2 separate regions of the Homo sapiens genome follow, and region 2 is linked to region 1. The links come from fine-mapping of genetic effects on gene expression. A gene starts in region 1. The other region holds a variant in brackets. All regions are shown on one strand. Distances are from middle to middle. Region 1 holds the start of ASF1B (anti-silencing function 1B histone chaperone). Region 2 overlaps ADGRL1 (adhesion G protein-coupled receptor L1).

The links. PIP is the estimated chance that this variant, and not a neighbour inherited with it, causes the effect.
Region 2: its variant is fine-mapped to the expression of ASF1B in whole blood (INTERVAL, PIP 0.91).

What each region holds. Positions count from the first base shown.
Region 1 is chr19:14,134,332-14,139,698 of GRCh38, reverse strand. ASF1B (anti-silencing function 1B histone chaperone) reads left to right here and starts at 3,110. Exons shown (of 4, transcript NM_018154.3): 1 at 3,110-3,351. The coding sequence starts at 3,243. It overlaps ADGRL1-AS1 (ADGRL1 antisense RNA 1), which reads right to left and starts at 2,547. Exons shown (of 3, transcript NR_045214.1): 1 at 2,476-2,547. RefSeq lists enhancers at 2,465-2,624, 2,121-2,747, 2,825-2,964 and a silencer at 3,295-3,344.
Region 2 is chr19:14,188,309-14,193,675 of GRCh38, reverse strand. All of the region lies in intron 1 of ADGRL1 (adhesion G protein-coupled receptor L1), which reads left to right. Among named protein-coding and RNA genes, the nearest start is that of ADGRL1, 15 kb to the left of the region's middle. The variant G/A (reference allele first, on the strand shown) is at 3,285.

The sequences.
Region 1 (5,367 bases):
CATTTGGAAATTAGATTTTCTCAAATCACAAATATCCCTAAGTATGCAATGATTGCCAAGAAATCAAGCGAATCATAAATGTGAGTTTCCTTGAAGCCAAATAATTTCAAAAGAATAAAAACAAAGCTTTCGATTTTTTAACAGCTAAAAAGAATTTTTCTTAACTTAATGTGAGATGTAGATACCAAAAATGGGCTAGGCGCTGTAATCCCAGCACTTAAGGACAAGATAGGTGGACTGCTTGAGGCCAGGAGTTTCAAGACCAGCCTGGGCAACAGCGAGACCCTGTCTCTACAAAAAATTTAAAAAGTATAAGAGGCAGGGCACGGTGGCTCATGCCTGTAATCTCAGCACTTTGGGCGGCCGAGGTGAGTGGATCACCTGAGGTCAGGAGTTTGAGACCAGCCTGGCCAACATAGTGAAACCCCATCTTTACTAAAAATACAAAAATTAGCTGGGTAAGGTAGCGTGTGCCTGTAGTCCCAGCTACTCGGGAGGCTGAGGTGGGAGAATCGCTTGAAGCTGGAAGCAGGAGGTTGCAGTGAGCTGAGATTGCGCCACTGCATTCCAGCCTGAGTGACAGAGCAAGACTCCCTCTCAAAAAAAAAATAAAATAAAATAAAACAAATTAGGCATGGTGGCACGCACTGGTGATCCCAGCCACTCGGGAGGCTGAGGTGGGAGGATCACTTGAGCCCAAGAGTTCCAGGTTATAGTGAGCCACGATTATGCCACTTGCACTCCAGCCTGGGCAACAGACCTCTATTAAAAAAAAAAAATCCCACAGGAACTGGATTGTTTAAAAAGAAAAGGAAAAGGAAAACATACTAGCACAGTGAGTGAGTCCTAGTGAGCCCACAGAGGTGACTGGGTAAGAAATACTAGTGCCTTGGCTCAGTGCTGTTCAGGCGTACGGCCTGTGAGTTTGAACACTGTCCAGAGCACCCTTAGAAAGGCCTCTCTGGGGAGAGGACATTTGAACAGAGACTTGAATGACAAGAAGGCATAAGCCATGCCAAGAGCCTAGGAGAAGAGGTTCTGGGCAGAGGCTTTGCACTGGGAGTGGCTTGTCAGAATTTTAACAAAAAGAGGGTTACTTAGCCTGGTTTGAAGTTGGAGCTGGGTGGTTAACAGGAGACAAAGCATAGAGTTTCAAAGACAATGCTCTCATCCGGAGAAGTGACCTGGTCAAATGTGTTTCTGACCTTCGCTGTCCAGTAATACAGGAGCCACTTGTCACACGGGCTCAGGAGCACTCAACTGCGGCTATCAAGACAGCTAAACTGAACTTTCTTTTTTAAAATTTAATTTTAATTTTTAGAGACAGGGTCTCACTCTGACACTCAGGCTGGAGTGCAGTGGCTGGAGCATTCTGGGCTCAAGAGATCCTCCTGCCTCAGCTTCAGGAGTAGCAGACACTACAGGTATGCACTACCACACCTGGCTTATTCTTTTATTTTTTGTAGATATGAGGTCTTGTTATGTTGCCCAGGCTGATCTTGAACTCCTGGCCTCAAGAAATCCTCCATGACCAGCCTCTAAAATTACAAATAATAATAAAAAAAGATATGGCCGGGCACAGTGGCTCACGCCTGTAATCCCAGCACTCTGGAAGGCCGAGGCGGGCGGATCACTTGAGGTCAGGAGTTCGAGACCAGCCTGGCCAACATGGTGAAACCCCGTCTCTACTGAAAATACAGAAAAAAAATTAGCTGGTTGTGGTGGTGGGCACCTGTAATCCCAGCTACTCAGGAGGCTGAGGCAGGAGAATCGCTTGAACCCGGGAGGTAGAGGTTGCAGTGAGCCGAGATCGCGCCATTGCACTCCAGCCTGAGTGACAGCGCGAGATTCCATCTCAAAAAAAAAAAAGTGGCTTCCAAAAAATGTTAATTTTACACCTAATTTTGGTGCGCGGCTGGCATTATTTTTCCACTGGGCAGCACTGATCGCCCGTGGGGGCAGAGACTCTGAGACCTGGAGTCTCCCAGGCCGGGGGCGACGGCCCAGACGGGAGGCGGTGGAGAGAAGTTTCCGGATGTATTATGTGGTCATGAATCATGTCAGGGAATTGCCACGGCCCCCGTTGAATGGGGAGGCGCTGCCTCGGGCGCTGAGTAGCAGAGCCCGGACTCTGAACACTGGTCTGCCCCCGAACTGGAACTCCCATTTTCAGTACCGTCCGCTTGAAACCTCCCAAGAGCCCTCAAGGGGGCGAGAGAGGGATCCAAACCCCTCGGGGGCGAGAGCGGGATCCGAACCCCTCGGGGGCGAGAGCGGGATCCGAACCCCTCGGGGGCGAGAGCGGGATCCGAACCCCTCGGGGGCGAAAGCGGGATCCGAACCCGGCCGGATTCCCGAGGTCTGAGCGCGCCTCGTGACCGCCACTCCGAACGTTCGCAACGTTCACAACGGACTCCCGCGCCGCTGGACCTCAAGGGTCAGGAGCCACTCAGAAAAGCTCCAGGAAACGCTCACCTGTTGACAGACGCTGAGGCCGCAAACGCTCCTCCTCTCTCTTCACACTCGCCAACACCGCGGTGGCGCTCGACTTCCGCTTCTCTCCAGCGAATCCCCAGCTGAGCCTCCTTCTGCTCCCGCCACCATTACCAATCCAGCCAATAAACTCTCAGAAAACCCTCTTTATCTCCGCCCCACTCCCTCCTGCCAATCACTTCGGGTGCGAGCACCGCCCTTCCCGCCTTCTTTAGCGAGCGCCGCGCGCCACCGCTCGGCGGGTGGCGGCGCTGCGCGCTGCGGGATGCATCTCCCGGAAAAGCGAGGCGAGGGGCGGGCCACGCCGGTGCGGGAACCCTCAGGATTGGCCAGAAGGAGGCCGGCGCTGTGACTCCGTCCATTCCCGCCGTTGACATCCAAGTCGGAGACGCTGGGGATTGGTTTCCAGCGGACACGCTAAGAAGCTTGGAGATAGTTTCGCCCTCCTCACACGCTGCGGAGAGGGAGCTCCGCTGATTGGTCCGAGGAGTCTGGGCGCGCGCCGATCGGCGCTCCAGGACTGGCTGAGGGGGTGCGCGCGCCGCCAGGGAGCGTTGGCGGTGATTGGCCAGAGGGCGGAGGCCGGCTATTTGAAGGCGGCGCGCGGACTAGGTGCGCACTTCAGTTCTCGGAGAGAAGAGGCGGGAGTGGACCTGGTCAGCCCTACCCCACTGACCCCACCGGACCCAGGCGCGGCCTCCGCCACAGCCACAGCCCCTGCCCCTGCTGCGGCGCGGCGAGGCGAGGCGATGGCCAAGGTGTCGGTGCTGAACGTGGCGGTCCTGGAGAACCCGAGCCCTTTCCACAGCCCCTTCCGGTTCGAGATCAGCTTCGAGTGCAGTGAAGCCCTGGCGGACGGTGAGGCTGGGCCTGTGCGGGGACCCCCACCCCCGGGCCGACCCCGGCCTCCCCTCAGAGAACCGCTCCCATGGCCAACTTGATCTCCCCCATGAAACCCCTCGTCCCCCTTCCGCCAACCCCGATCTCCCCCAGCCCGCCAGTCAACCGGATCTCCCGGTGGAGACCCCCCGCCACCAGCCAACACGGACCTCCCCGTGACCTCCTCCCCCACTGCCCGCCTTGACCTCCCGGGTGGAGACCCCCCGCCAGCTAACTCGGACCTCCCAGTGGCCTCTTCCCCCACTGCCCGCCCCGACCTCCCCATAGAGATTAACCCCCTCCAAGCCCCATTTCCCGCGTGGGGAACCTCATCCATCTTTTTTCTCTGGAGCTCTTCCTAGGTACCCGTTTTCATGGGGAGACCTTCTCGGCCTCCATTTCTTAACCCACGGAGATCTTCAGCCACCGTGGTTTCCCTGTGGCAAGACCCCCGCTTCAACCACCCACCCATTTTTGCCCACTTATTCCCTCTTTCCTGTAGTGAGATACTCACACCTCCCATTTTCCCTCTGGAGACCCCCAATATCCAGCCCCTTCCCATTTTCCCCGGGGGAAATCCCAGCCATCTCCTATTTTCCCTATGGAGACCTCTCACCCAAGCTCCTCTCTCCTTGCCGTGAAGACCCTCCCCTCCAGTAACCTTTTTTTCCTGTGAAAACCCCTCAACCCCTTTTCAGGACCTCTCTCAACCCCATCTTCCCATTTGTGTCCCACCAGTCCCCTCCCCAACCTGCCAATATTTCAATAACCCCACGCCCACCAGTTGCTGCCGCTTTTCTGCCCCAATGCACATACCCTGGAACCTGGTTTCTCTCCTTCGTTGGGGCCCAACCCCCCTATGCTTGAGCTCTCCCTGGGAAAGGATGCTACCGTCTTTGAGGGGAACTTTGTCTCCCCAGCTCCCCTTCCCCACCTTTCTCTGTGGGCTTGGATAAACACACTGAGATCCGAGGGGTGGCATAGCCAGGCAGGCATTAGCTAGTTCTCCAGGTTTGCCCACCCGTTTCCAGCTGAGTTACTGCAGCAATTTTTCTGTCACTTTTTCTTTCTTCTTCTTCCTCTTCTTTTTTTTTTTTTTTTTTTTGAGACAGTCTCACTCTGTTGCCCAGGCTGGAGTGCAATGGCACGATCTCGGCTCACTGCAACCTCCACCTCCCGAGTTCAAGCGATTCTTCTGCCTCAGCCTCCCGAGTAGCTGGGACTACAGGCGCCTGTCACCACGCCCAGCTAATTTTAGTATTTTTAGTGGAGGCAGCGTTTCACCATGTTAGCCAGGTTGGTCTCGAACTCCTGACCTCAAGTGATCCACCCGCCTTGGCCTCCCAAAGTGCTGGGATTACAGGCGTGAGCCACCGTGCCCCGTCTTCTTCTTTTTTTTTTTTAATATAGCTGGATAATCAGTGCCAAGCTCCCGTTGCTTTTGATGGTCTGACCTAGTCTGGGGGGTGGGTGGATTGGGCTGAGCTGTGACGGGCTCCAGCTTCAAACAGTCGGCTGGAGCTTGGAGGTCACAGCCTCCTGTACATCTTTTCCAAGGTGCTTCCGTAGATGTACTTATTAATCTGTGTGACTTAAAGGTGGGCATGGCTCTCATCTCACAGATGAGAAGACAGGAGCCACAAAACGCAAAAGACCTTTCAAGTCAAGGCCTGTACAAATCCAAAATCTAAGGTCACCTAGGGAGCCTTGGCACCACTAACAGGCAAGTCCTGCTTTCAGGAAGAAGTACTCCATTAGGCCATTTTTCTACTTGGTGGTTGAAAGAGAAAAGGCAGCAGCCGAGGAGGTGGTGATCTGGGGGCCTGTGAAGCCAGGATATGCTAACTAGTGCCTCTCGGGGGCAGGTAGGTGTTTTGCCCTCAAAGCTGGTCGCCTGGACTAGCTTGGAGCTGATAGAGTGAGATGTGGATGTGCTTTGGGTAGGCCAGTGGGTCTGTCTCTCCCCGGTCTCTCTCGCTCCTTTTTAAATTAAGG
Region 2 (5,367 bases), 54 kb before region 1:
GATTATCTCTGTAAGGACTCCAGATGTTCCCAACACAGTCACATTTGAGTTATCAGGAGTTGGGACTTCAACATATCTTTTGTATTTTTGACATGGGGTCCCACTCTCTTGCCCAGGCTAGAATGCAATGGTGCAATCAGAGCTCACTGCAGCCTCAACCTCCTGGGCTCAAGCAACCCTCCCCCTTCAGCCTTCCCAGTAGCTGGGACTATAGGCACGTGCCACCGTGCTCGGCTAATTTTTGTGTTTTTTGTGGAGATGGGGTCTCACTATGTTGCTCAGGCTGGTCTCAAACTCCAGGGCTCAAGTGATCCTCCCACCTTGGCCTCCCAAAGTACTGGGGTTGTAGGTGTGAGCCACTGTGCACTGTGCCCAGCCTGAGTTTTTTTTTTTTTTTTTTTTTTGGCGGTGGGGGCGGGGGGCCATATTTCAATCCTCCCCCTCCAGAGGCCTCAGGGATGGTCAGGCCTGGGTCTCCCGGGGGACACCCACCACCTGCCAAGCTGAGGCTGGTTCCTGGGGGTGTCTGGAGCTTCCTAGGGGAGCCACTCTGGGGAGAGGGCGTCGTGCTCCTGGGGAACTCTGTCTGTACCCCTAAGGCAATGGCACCCTGCCTGTGGGGGTCAGGCGTGGTCCCCCAGGTCACAGGGCAGACGCCCCATCTCCAGCTATCCTCACTGCCGTCCTTAGTCACTCCCCTGTCTTCAGTAAGTTTTTGCTTGGGGACCCACTGTGTGTTCAGGGAACCAGGAGACAGGAGTCGGGGAAACCAAGTTCCAGCCTCAGGAGTTTCCATTCTTCTGGGAGTAGAAAGAAAATCTAGAAGGCTGGGCACGGTGGCTCACGCCTGTAATCTCAGCACTTTGGGAGGCCGAGGCGCGTGGATCATCTGAGGTTGGGAGTTCGAGAGCAGCCTGACCAATATGGCGAAACCCCGTCTCTACTAAAAATACGAAAATTAGCCAGGTGTGGTGGCCTGTGACTGTAATCTCAGCTACTCAGGAGGCTGAGGCAGGAGAATCACTCGAGGTTCTTGAATCACTTGAGGCGGAGGTTGCAGTGAGCCAAGATCACGCCAATGCATTCCAGCCTGGGCGACAGAGCAAGACTCCGTCTCAAAACAAAACAAAGAAAAGGCCGGGAGCAGTGGCTCACGCCTGTAATCCCAACACTTTGGGAGACCAAGGCAGGTGGATCACCTGAGGTTGGGAGTTCAAGACCAGCCTGACCAACATGGCAAAACGTCATCTCTACTAAAAATACAAAAATTAGGCAGGCGTGGTGGCGTGTGACTGTAATCCTAGCTACTCAGGAGGCTGAGGCAGGAGAATTGCTTGAACCTGGGAGGTGGAGGTTGCAGTGAGCCGAGATCGCGCCACTGCACTCCAGCCTGAGCGACAGAGTGAAACTCCGTCTCAAAAAATAAATAAATAAATAAAATAAAATAAAGGAACTCTAGGAGTGGTCAAGTAAAAGTATGGAGCAGGGATGGGATGGATGAGGTTATGGACTAAATTGTATCTTCCCACCTCCCTCCCAAATGCAGAGGTTGAAGCCCTGACTCCCAGCGTGAGTGTATTTGGAGGTAGGCCCTTGAGGGAGGTAGTTAAGGTTAAATGAGATCTTAAGGGTGGGGCCCCCTACTCTCAGAGGACTGGTATCCCAATAAGAAGAGAGAGGCCGGCGCTTGTGGCTCATGCCTGTAATCCCAGCACTTTGGGAGGCCAAGGCAGGAAGATCGCTTGAGGCCAGGAGCTCAAGACCAGCCTGGGCGACATAGCGAGACCCCATCTCTACAAAAAAAATCGAAAAAGTAGCTGGGCACAGGAGCACGCACCTGTAGCCCCAGCTACTCAGGAGGCTGAGGCGGGAGGATCCCATGAGCCTGGGAGGTTGAGACTGCAATGAGCCGGGATTGTGCCACTGCACTCCAGCCTGAGCAAGAGAGCCAGACCTTGTCTCAGAAAAAAAAAAAAAAAGAGAGAGACAGCAGGGATCTGTCTCCCTTTATGCATGTCTAGAGAAGAGGCCCTGTGAGGATATAGTGAGAAGGCGGAAGAGAATTTCCACAGAAACTGAATTCGCTGGCACCTTGATCTTGGCCTTCTGGCCTCCAGAACTAGGAGGAAGTAAATTTCTGCTGTGTAAGCCGCGCAGTCTATGGCACTTTGTTATGGCAGCCCGAGCTAATAGAGAAGGTGACAATGGGGACAAGGGATGCTTCACCCTGTCTGTGTGCCAGGAGCATCCCGAGTGTCTCGTGTGTGAATTTGTCCTGTTGCACAGCTGCCCTCTGAGGTATCCCCGTTTTACCAAGAAGAAAACAGAGACACAAGAGGTCACAGCATGGCAAGGGATGCACAGGCAGGCGGTGACTGCAGGGCACTGTAATACAGGGTGGCAGAGGCCCATGTCTGCGTCTCTGGGGAGGACACCTCTGAGTCTGAGGGACACAGATGGGGACAGGCTGAGGCTGGAGGGTGGGAACCCGCATGGCTGGAGGGAGACAAGGCGGGAGTCAGAGGTGTTGGAGGGGTTAAAGCAGAAGACCCACCACTCAACATTGTCTTTTGTTTTTGTTTTTGTTTTGAGACGGAGTCTTGCTCTGTCGGCCAGGCTAGAGTCGGTGGCGTGATCTTGGCTCACCGCAACCTCTGCCTCCCAGGTTCAAGCAATTCTCCTACCTCAGCCTCCCGAGTAGCTGAGATTACAGGTCCCCGCCATCACACCTGGCTAATTTTTGTATTTTTAATAGAGATGGGGTTTCACCATGTTGGCCAGGCTGGTCTTGAACTCCTGACCTCAGGTGATCTGCCCTCCTCGGCCTCCCAAAGTGCTGGGATTACAGGCGTGAGCCACTGCGCCCGGCCAAGATTGTCTTTTAAAACACCCCTCTGGAATGGATGAACCTGGAGGACATTATGCTAAGTGAAATAAGCCAGACACAGAAAGACAAATAGTGCATGACCTCACTTATCTGTGGAATCTAAAAAAGAATTGAACTCGTAGAAGCAGAGTAGAGCAGTGGTTATGGTGGTGAGGGCACAGGGGAAGGCGGGGGATGTAGGTCAAAGGGTACAAGCTTTCAGCTTTCAGATAAACACGTTTTAACCAGGCAGAATGGCTTGTGCCTGTAATCCCAGCACTTTGGGAGGCCAAGGCGGGAGCATCGCTTGACGCCAGGAGTGCAAGGCCAGCCTGAACAACATAGCAAGACCCTGTCTCCACAAAAAAATTTAAAATCAGCCAAGCATGGTGGCACACACCTGTAATTCCAGCTACAC[G/A]GAAGGCTGAGGTGGGAGGATCTCTTGAGCCCAGGAGTTCGAGGCTACAGTGAGCTTTGATGGTGCCACTGCACTCCAGCCTGGGCAACAGAGCAAGACCTCATCTCTAAAAGAAAAAAGTTCCAGAGACCTAAGGTACAGCATGGTGACTATAATTAATAATAGCAGGCCAGGTGTGGCGGCTCATACCTATAATCGCAGCACTTTGGGAGGCCGAGGCAGGCAGATTGCTTGAGCTCAAGAGTTTGAGACCAGCCTGGGCAACATGAGACTCCATCTCTACTAAAAATACAAAAATTAACCAGGCACGGTGGTGCCCACCCGTAGCCCCGGCCACTTAGGAGGCTGAGGCACGAGAATTGCTTGAACTGGGAGGGAGAAGTTGCAGTGAGCCAAGATTGCGCCACTGCACTCCAGCATGGGTGACAGAGCGAGACTCCGTCTCAAAATAATAATAATTATTATAGCATACTGTTTTCTTGAAACTTGCTGAGGAATTAGACTCAAGTGTTCTCACCACACACACCAGAAAGGTGTCTAGGTGAGGTGTTGGATGTGTTGTTAGCTTGGTTGTGGTAATCACTTCACAACACATAATGGATATCAAAATATCATGTAACCTTAAATAGATGTAATTTCTATTTGTCAATGATGCCTCAGCAAAGCTAGGGAGAAAATAAAAAGGATCCTTCTGTGCAACAGCCCGCATGTCCATTACCGATGACTGGATAAAGAAAACGTGCTCCACCCATGCAGTGGAATACTACGCAGCCATAAAACGGAATGAAGCTCGGATCCAGGCTAGAACGTAGGTGAGCCTTGGAAACGTGGCGCTGAGTGAGAGAAGCTGGACACAAAATAAGGCCAGGAATGGTGGCTCACAGCCGTAATCCCAGCACTTTACGAGGCCAAGATGGGCAGATCACTTGAGTCCAGGAGTTTGAGGCCAGCCTAGGCAACATGACGAAATCCTGCCTCTACAAAAAATACAAAAGTTAGCCAGGAGTTCATTTAGAGGAGTCATGTGACTATAGTCCCAGCTACTCAGGAGGCTGAGATGGGAGAATCACTTGAGCCTGGGAGGTGGAGGTTACAGTGAGCCGAGATTGGGCCACGGCACTCCAGCCTGGGCAACAGAGTGAGACCCCCATCTAACTGGGAAAAAAAAAAAAAAAAAGGCCACATAGCCTGTGACTCCATTTGTATGAAATGTCTAGAATAGGTAAATCCATGGAGACAGAAAGTAGATTATAAGTTACCAGGGCTGGGCGACAAGGGGAGTGGGCATTATTGTTTAGTGGGTACGGAGTTTCTATGTGGGGTGATAAAAAAGTTTTGGAGGCTGGGCACGATGGCTCATGCCTGTAATCCCAACACGTTGGGAGGCCGAGGCGGGTGGATCACTTGAGGTCAGGAGTTCCAGACTAGCCTGGCCAACATGGTGAAACCCCGTGTCTGCTCGTGGTGGTGGGCGCCTATAATCCCAGCTACTCAGGAGGCTGAGGCAGGAGAATCACTTGAACCCGGGAGGTGGAAGTTGCAGTGAGCCAAGATTGTGCCACTGCACTCCAGCCCCGGTGACAAAGTGAGACTCCGTCTCAAAAAAAGAAAAAAAAGGAGGTGGTGCCTCTGGCTGCCAGGAGAGCCTGGACGTCGGAGGCAAAGGAGCCAGAGGGCACTTGGGGAGTGGCCAGGGCCCAGGACTAGAGGGGCAGATGCTGAAGACAGATGTGTGGACCAACACTGGGGTGTTCTGGAAGTATACACAGCCCAAAGACTTACTCTTGAACTGGATTTAGGGGTGAGAGAGGAGTCAAGGGTTTCAGCTCCTGGGGTTCTGGCTGGAGGGCCTGGGAGGATGGTGGCACCGTGCACTGATGTAGGGGCTTATTTTGGTCTGGTTGGGCTGAAGGTGCCTTGGAGTTCCCGGTGGAAGTATACATGGCTCTGGGGGGTCCACTCTGGAGTCTTAGCATTCTAGGGTGCAGCCTGGGAGGAAGAGAGGGACTGCCTCTTCCGTGGGTGTCTTTGTGCCCTGACTGGCACCAGGCTGTGCACAGCACCCTCTGATGGGGCCTGTATT